Linked DNA regions of Homo sapiens: region 2 is linked to region 1. Evidence: fine-mapped expression QTL. A gene starts in region 1. The other region holds a variant in brackets. All regions are shown on one strand. Distances are between the middles of the regions. Region 1 holds the start of LINC00944 (long intergenic non-protein coding RNA 944). Region 2 overlaps LINC00944 (long intergenic non-protein coding RNA 944).

What was found. PIP is the estimated chance that this variant, and not a neighbour inherited with it, causes the effect.
Region 2: its variant is fine-mapped to the expression of LINC00944 in whole blood (TOPMed, PIP above 0.99).

The regions. Positions count from the first base shown.
Region 1 is chr12:126,769,855-126,774,254 of GRCh38, reverse strand. LINC00944 (long intergenic non-protein coding RNA 944) reads left to right here and starts at 1,993. Exons shown (of 5, transcript NR_033878.1): 1 at 1,993-2,176. RefSeq lists enhancers at 1,665-1,744, 1,220-2,419.
Region 2 is chr12:126,746,244-126,750,643 of GRCh38, reverse strand. It overlaps LINC00944 (long intergenic non-protein coding RNA 944), which reads left to right. Exons shown (of 5, transcript NR_033878.1): 2 at 2,517-2,713; 3 at 4,312-4,383. It overlaps LINC00943 (long intergenic non-protein coding RNA 943), which reads right to left. Exons shown (of 4, transcript NR_038256.1): 4 at 4,388-4,400. Among named protein-coding and RNA genes, the nearest start is that of LINC00943, 11 kb to the right of the region's middle. The variant C/T (reference allele first, on the strand shown) is at 2,501.

The DNA.
Region 1 (4,400 bases):
AGTCTTCAATGGAGAAGTTGCAGCTGGGATCAGAGACCCTCCTGGCAATTGCATGATTCACATCTCAGCAATAACATCTTGATGCATAAAGAAGAACACTGTACTTACAATCCCCGGAGGCAGAGGAGTAGACACACAATTACATGGCAGGGGCTTAGTTCATGATTAGGATGGCAAAGATCAGGCCCGGGATGGGCTGGCTGTATAACGCTAAATCAAAGAGGGCTCAGATTTATGAAACCAATAAATAAATGAGGCCCCAGACATCTGTCTGGAGTTGCTTGGGGAAATTCATTGATTTCAGAAAAAGGTATATATTAATAGTTTAAAAACATAAGAATAAAAATCACAGAGTTCATATCTTCAGCCTGAATATTTCTTCCTACTTCAAGATTCCTCCATCCAACTACCAATACCTGTCTCCAGTTAGATATCTACTATGCATCTTTAAATTAATATGTCTGAAACTAAACTCCTGTGTGCCACCACCACAATCTGCATGAACGAACAGATGAATGAATGAATGAATGAATGAATGAATGAATGAATGACTTACCATGACCATCAGAATCAAGGCACCTTGGTATAATATCTCTTTCCTTCCTTACAGCTGAAAATTTAGCTCTTGTCTTTGAAGATTCACTTCTGCCTCTCTCTAGCCCTGAATTGGTCTCTCTAGCAACATGTGTCTCCCCTCTGAATTCCTGTATGGATTTCAGACTAATGGCAGCCAAACCAGTGCCTGCACCCTTCCAGATTGTTTCTTCTAATTTAGTCCTCTGCTGGTGGTCTCCATGCACTCTCCTTTGCATATTCATCTGCAGGTCATCTTCACACATTCTTATCAGCCTAGGAGTCTTCTGTGCAGTGGTCTCTTCCTGCCACATCTCCCCTCTCCCCAGGAGATTAGAATGGCAAAGCCACACTCTATGGGATCTCAAGAACCCAAGTGTGAGATTTGCTTTCAGTATTTAGCAGAATTGGTGTTTCTGGGGCGGCAATCTCCTCCTGGAGATGTGTTAATCATTTACAGAATAGCCTGGACTAGTGTATGGGCCCTGCCCTTAGAGCCAATGCCACATTTATTTTTATTTTGCGAGATCTGCACTGACATGAAAACCGAAAATTCTATTGACGTTTCCTGTTCAACCTAAAAGCTAAATCCAGTTCATCACTGAAATCCCACAATGCCCTGAGACAAATAGTGCTTTAAAATATGTGGTGATTTTTAGGTCAGGTGCGGTGTAATCCCACACCTGTAATCCCAGCACTTTGGGAGGCCGAGGCGGGTGGATCACGAGGTCAGGAGGTTGAGATCAGCCTGATCAATATGGTGAAACCCCATCTCTACTAAAAATACAAACATTAGCCAGCGCCTGTAATCCCAGCTACTCAGGAGGCTGAGGCAGAAGAATGGCACGAACCCGGGAGGCGGAGGCTGCAATGAGCCAAGGTCGCGCCATTGCATTCCAACCTGGGCAACAGAACGAGACTCCGTCTCTAAGAAAAAAAAAAAAAAAAAGTGGTGATTTTTTTAAAAAGGAGTGGTTCATTCAGTTAAATGGGAAGAGTTGTAATGAGGGACTAAGTGGCTAAGTTGGCTGGACTTCCTGGGTCAATAGGGACTTCCCTAAGGGGACTTTCCCCTAAGCCAAAATGAGTCATAGCTGAAAGCTAAGGGATGGAAACTTCAACCAATCAAAGGGGACTTTCCCCTAAGACAAACTGACTCATAGCTGCAAGCTAAGTGGTTGAAACTTGAACCAGTCATATAGGGAGTTTAAGCTCTAGCTTCAGCCTGATGTTTTTAACCAACTAGGCCCGCCAACCCACAAGCAGATAGAAAATAAGCTGATTCTATAGGACAGAAAAAGGAAGAGGGCAGGGGTCATAAGGGGATGTAAGCATAAGATACCCAAGCCAGAAACAGCAACCCTTCCAGGTCCCCTTCCCCCACGTGGAAGCTTTCCTTTCACTTTCGCTTTAATAAATCTTGCCGCAGCACACTCTCTAATCGAGCTGTAACACTCGCCACTGCCGTCCACGGCTTCATTCCTTGAAGCCGTGAGACCACGAACCCTTCGATTGAGAAGAACCTTCGGTCGGAAGAAGACTTCTCGTCTCAGTAACAATAACAAGAAAAACAGCCTAGACTAGACGCACATCAGGAAGACAGGTAGTAACAAAATATTTTGTTGTTTGTACTTTTAGTGTTGTCTCTAAGACAGCTTTGCCTAACCCAGGCAACAAAAATTTAATCCTATACTTTCATCTAAGAGTATTACAATTTTAACTCTTTAATTGAGGTCTGTGGATCATTTGGAGTTAATTTTTGTGTGTGGTGTAAGGAAGGGATCCAAAACATACTTGTCAGCAGCAGTTGTGGAAAAGACTATTTTTCCTATTTTTTTCCTCATTCAACTGTCTGGAATTTTTGTTGAATATCAATTGACTATAAATGTAACGGTACGTTTTACGGCTCTCAAGTCTATTCCACTGGTCTGTGTGTCATTTTTTTATACCAATACCACACTCTTTAATTATTGTGCCCGGGTAATGTCTGACATTGGAAAGTGTGAGTCCTCTAAATGTGTTATTTTTCTCAACTGTTTTGGATGTTCTAAGTCCCCTGTGTTTCAATATGAATTTTATGATAGGCTTCTCAATTTATACAACAAATCCAGCCAGAATTTTGATAGGGACCACATTGAATCTATAGATCAATTTGAGGAGTACTGCCATCTGAACAATATTGTCTTCCAATCCACAAACATGAATTTTTTTCCATTTATTTAAATCTTCTTTAATTCTTTTCAACAATGTTTTCTAGTGCTACATGCATAGGTTTTGCACTTCCTTTTAAGAATTTATTCCTAAATATCATATTATTTCTGAGTGCTATTATAAATATAATTACATATTTTCTTAAAATCATTTTTGGATTGCTTACTTTTAGCATATAGAATTTCAATTTATTTTTGTATATTGATCTTGTATCTTGAAACTTTGTCCAACTAATTATTAGTTTTAATAGGTTTTAAGTGGATTTCTTAAGATGTTCCATACACAAGGTCATATCATGTTTGAATATAAATAGACTTACTTCTTTATTTCCAAACTGGATGCTATTTATTTATTTTTCTGGCCTAATTATCTTGGATAATTTCAGGAAAATTTTGAATAGAAGTTATAAGAGTAGACATTCATGTCTTATTCCTGATCTTAAGAGAAAATAACTCAGTCTTTTACTATTAACTATAATGACAGCTGTGGAGTTTTTTGTAGATGTCCTTTACCTTCTATTTCCAATTTATTGAGTGGTTTTTTAAAAATGTATATGAAAAGGTGTTGGATTTTGTTAAATGCTTTTTCTGGGTATACTGAGATGGTTATGTGGTTTTTGTTATTTATTCTAATAATGTGGTATTTAGATGGGGGTCTTTAACTGCTGGCTGAAGACTCTCCAAAGCTTGTTTTCCTTCTTCCAGAGTGATCTATAGTATTCAATACAGTGGTTTTCATTTGTCCTGTGCATCTGATCATAATGAACAGAACCTCTCTACTGATCACTGAAGAACCTATAGCATGAGTGAGAAATAAACCTTATTGTTTCAAACCACTGAGGTTCTGAGGTTGTTTGTTAGGTAGGTGCCTTTAAAATATGTCCACAAATTTTTCTTTAACAAACCCTCCCTTATCATGTTAAGTCTATTTCCCCTCTCAGTGAGTGAGAGTCCAAATGAGTTACTCACAGAAGTAATTTACAAACAGAAGTAATAATATATGGTGATATGGTTTGGCTGTGTTCCCACCCAAATCTCATCTTGAATTCCCATGTGTTGTGGGAGAGATGCAGTGGGAGATAATTGAATCATGGGGGGAAATTTTTCCCATGCTGTTCTCCTGATAGTGAGTAAGTGTCATGAGATCTGACCGTTTTATAAAGAGGAGTTTCCCTGAAGAAGCTCTCTTTCTCTTTGCCTGCTGCCATGCACGTAAGACGTGACTTGCTCCTCCTTGCCTTCTGCCATGATTGTGAGGCTTCCCCAGCCATGTGGAAATGTAAGTCCAATTAAACTTCTCTCTTTTGTAAATTAGCTGGTCTCAGGTATGTCTTTATTAGCAGTATGAAAACAAACTACTACATATGGCTTTTGGGCTAAGTCATGAAAATAAAAGGCATTGTTCTCTCTCATCACTTACTCTAGGAAAATCTGGCCGTATTTCAGCAAGACACTCAAACCCATGTAGCCAAAACAAAACAAACAACAACAACAACAACAACAAATGCATACTCCTATCAAAAGCCAGTGAAGAACTGAACCCTCCTGCCAAATGCCATGTGCAAAATCAGCTAGGAAGTGAACTCATCATTGATACTATTGAATAAGCATCCCAGA
Region 2 (4,400 bases), 24 kb after region 1:
ATGGCGCACGTTTACCTATGTAACAAACCTGCACATCCTGCACATGTACCCCAGAATGTAAAATAAAAGTTGAAGAAAAAACAACAAATGCTACTAATTCACTTTAAGGAAAAAAATATTAAAATGTTCAATGGTCTAATTTGTGATAAATATGAACAACTACCAGAATCAAGATGTGAAGCAATATAGATGCACAAAACTAATCAAAAGAAAATTCTAGAGTGGGAAATTAAGAAACAGGCATTATCTTTGCTCTGCAGGTAAATTCACTCTGATTGCCTTTCTGGTAACTGTATCTTCTTTCCCGCTGAAGAACCATCCCTCTCCGACTCTCAGTTCTGCCCGTGTGGAACCCAACCTCTGCTAACAGAGGAAACTTAGACAATAACAGCTAAGCCAAGCAGTGTGTTCCTGCCTCTCTCCACAGTGACTGGCTCAGGCTTGGGCGTGGAGAGCTAAGGGAGAGCCAGGGAGAGCTAAGGAGCACTGACTGGGGAGAGCTAAGGAGCGCTGGGGAGACTCCCTTGGGTCATCTACAGATGAGATTCTCACCCTTTTGCGTGGAAGCTGACATCCAGAGGTTTTGAAGTCTGGGCTGGTGCATCTGTCTTTCACTGATTCATCCATTATCTTTTTTTTTTTTTTTTTTTTTTTTTTTTTGAGACCGAGTCTCACTCTGTCACCAGGCTGGAGTACAGTGGCATGATCTTGGCTCACCACAACCTCCGCTTCCCGGGTTCAAGCAATTCTCCTGCCTCAGCCTCCTGAGTAGCTGGGACTGCAGGTGCCCACCACCATGCCTGGCTAATTTTTTATATATTTTTTTTGTAGAGACGGGGTTTCACTGTGTTGGCGAGGCTGGTCTCAAACTCCTGACCTCAAGTGATCCTCCCGTCTCAGCCTCCCAAAGTGCTGGGATTACAGGTGTGAGCCACCATGCCTGGCCTCATTATCCTTTTTACATATAAAAGAAAGTCTCTCTGAGAAGCCAAGAATACTCCTGGAGCAAGTAAAATGAGAAAGTTACCTGAAAGAAACGTACTTCAGACAGAGAGAAGACCCAGGGCAGAGATCCTGCTGCAGACACAGCCTTGGAGTATGGGGAAATAGGAGAGTAGGGAGCTAGAGTGGGGTGAACAGAGTAAATGATGGTAGGAGGCAAAGGAAAAGCCTATTTTTGAATGTCAACAGCATGGCATAAAAAAGAAGAGAGAGCAGGGGGAAGTCAAAGGAGTTTGGTGTGTTCTTGATAGCAAATGAAGGCTGAAGGCAGGCCTACACCTCAGGGCTATGTTATGACTTTGGGTGCTTCAGAAGCTTTTGCTTTGTGGATTCCTACTCTATTAAAATATTGTTATAGTGATTTTTCTTCTAATTTTAAAATAAATTAAAATTAAAATATTTTCATGAACCCTTTAATAGTACAGTGGGCCTCAGGCATGGTGTCTATTGAGACTACTGGATAAATTGGCCATGCTACCCCTGGCTTATTATTTATAGAAAGCATTAAATTACTTTTTTACTTAAGCCAGCTTTGGTATCGTTTTCTATTATTTGTAGTCAAAAATTGTTAACCAACACAAAACGTTTTCTTTTCCTTAAGCAACATTTAATAATGCACGCATCCTTCCCGCGAGAAACCATTAGTGTAAGCAAAACAGACGTTAATTACCAAATTTAAAACAAGCAAACTTTGGTGTTCTATTTCTTGAGTATTATCAGAGGAGGATCAAGTGCAGAGCTAGACAATAACTTTAGAGAAGTAATCATGGCATGCAGCTGTGCTTCTATTTTAATAGATCTGCTTCTCCTACATAACCTGCCATCAGTGGGTGACAGGCTGGATATCATTCCCCAACAGTGGGGAGGAGTTAGGCAGTGTCTTCACCCCCACACCCCATCCTCAATTCATTTTATGGCATTTAGCTGTTGTCAAGTTATGCTATTATAGAACAAATTATAGAACAACTGGCCCACTGTGGGCCTGAGCCTGGCATCTTTATACCATTAATACCTGCTCAAACAAGCATGTGCAGGTGTAACACTAAAAATAGCACAATAAAAGTGTTTCTAGCTGGACAGGAGAAAGCCCAGACTCCCAACACAGTCACTGTTACTAATAGCTAAGCTGGACATTTTTCAGTACTTGATGCTTTTCAAAGCATTTCGATGTGCATTATCTCCTGTGATCCTCAGAGACCACCCCCGTGCCCTCCACAGAAGCTATAATTCTCATTTTATCAAATAGGAAAATAAAGCTCCAACATTCAAGGAACTTGTCCATGATGTCTATGTCACAGGGTGGGGTCTCCAATACTGATCTTGAGTTCCGATTCGAATGTCCCTGGGCCATCTCCATCCCCTTCGTAGCTTTGGGAGGAGTGAGAGGCTCTCCTGTGTTTAAATCTTGAGAATCAATGATATTCTCTTTGCCCAAGACCATCATGTGAGATCCCACATTTGAACCATAGAAATTTTGGAGACTCACATCCTAAAACCA[C/T]GTTTCTCTATCCCAGTTAATCCCGTCATGTATTGACCCGGAAACATCATCTCATTTGCCTATAAGACAGAGAGAGAGAATGATAGAAATGCTGGAAGAACGAGCCTTGGGGCGGTATCGCCCAGATCTGAATCCACACAGCAGCTGCTTCGGTCCCTGTAACTCAAGGCTTCCTCTTAATCCTCTGTCCTCCATCAACACCTGGCTGAGCAGGTACTTCACAAACATTAAAAATAGTATAATTTCTAGGATCTATTTGTTAACTTGATCTCATTGGTCTATTAAAGCATCACACTGAGTTTCATGTAAATCATCTGTAGTATCCAGAAAGATTAGAGAAGAAGCTTTTGAAACAACCTCCACTTAACCTGCTTGCAGGGGATCCCACACCCTCCATTCCCCTCCATGGCCAGCAGGGGGCGCTCGCTCTAGGTGCTGGCTCTCTCTCCAGCTGCCAGGGCATTTCTGCTCCCATCAGGGGTGCTTTAAGCTTAGTACCAGCCTCTGTTATGGCATTATTACACTGCCCTCCTTTAATCTATACTATATAAATCCGTGAGCAGATTGAGCCGCTTCTATGAAAAGGAGCATAAATGCTGTGGAAAGATTCTACAAAACAACATGACTAAAACCATTTCTGACAAATTAGGTGTGGACAACAGAACTCTAAAACACAACGGAAAATTAAGCTCTGGAACGGTCCCTTCCTCCAATTGATTCTGAAGTGTCTTTAAGTCATTTCCCCACATTCGAGAAAACACAACTGGATATTGCAGATGGCCCGTTAGGAAGGTTATGGTTTATGACTGAAAGAGATCACACCAGCCCTGCAGACTTCTGCAAATAAAAATCTTGGCTCCACACAGCAAAAGACTGGGAAAGGAATACTTATTTATTTATTTATTTTGAGACAGAGTTTCGCTCTTGTTGCCCAGGCTGGAGTGCAATGGCGCGATCTCGGCTCACCACAACCTCTGCCTCCTGGGTTCAAGCAGTTCTCCTGCCTCAGCCTCCCGAGTAGCTGGGATTACAGGCATGCACCACCACACCCTGCTAATTTTGTATTTTTAGTAGAGACGGAGTTTCTCCATGTTGGTCAGGCTGGTCTCTAACTCCCGACCTCAGGTTATCTGCTCACATCGGCCTCCCAAAGTGCTGGGATTACAGGCGTCAGCCACCGCTCCCAGCCCATACTTTTAAATAAAAGAGTAATTATATAGAGATCACTGTTTAAACAATTTCTTAATCTGTATCTTTTTTATGGAGCCAACTCATAAAGTCACTTTTTTATGAAGCCTTGTCCTAGAGGGCTGCCTCTGCAGTGCTAGGTGGGTCTGCAGAGCTCAGCTTCCCTCTGCTGCAGATGAGTGTTGCATCCTTGGACAAATCATTTCTGCTCTGAACCTTCATTTTGCCTTCTGCATATGAGGTGTTTGATGAAAACAATTTCTGAGATTCCTTCATTTCTGATATGCTAGGATTCCACAAGCAAACCAATCTATGGGTGTGCACTTGGAGAGAGTTCTGTAGAGACGAAAAAGTTTTACCCTATGACAGAAGGACAAAATTCAGTAAAGAGTAGGGCTCCCATAATATAAGAAACCACTGCCAGCCCATGAGAACATTTTAGAGGGGAATGTCAAAAACATATTACCATATAAAATGTTAATATATATTAATATGTGAAAGTAATTAACAAAATGAGGAAGAACTCTCTTTTAAACTTTCTGATTAATTTCAGAAGGAAGTCTCAATTGAGGGGACTATGTCTTTGACCCTTTTGAACACTTGTCCGTCTCCCCTTTAATCAGGAACAACTATGACCTAGGACCAGGGCCTTCAGGAATCTTCACCCCTAACTTGAACTTCATAACACTGGAGAGGTAATTTTGACATGATT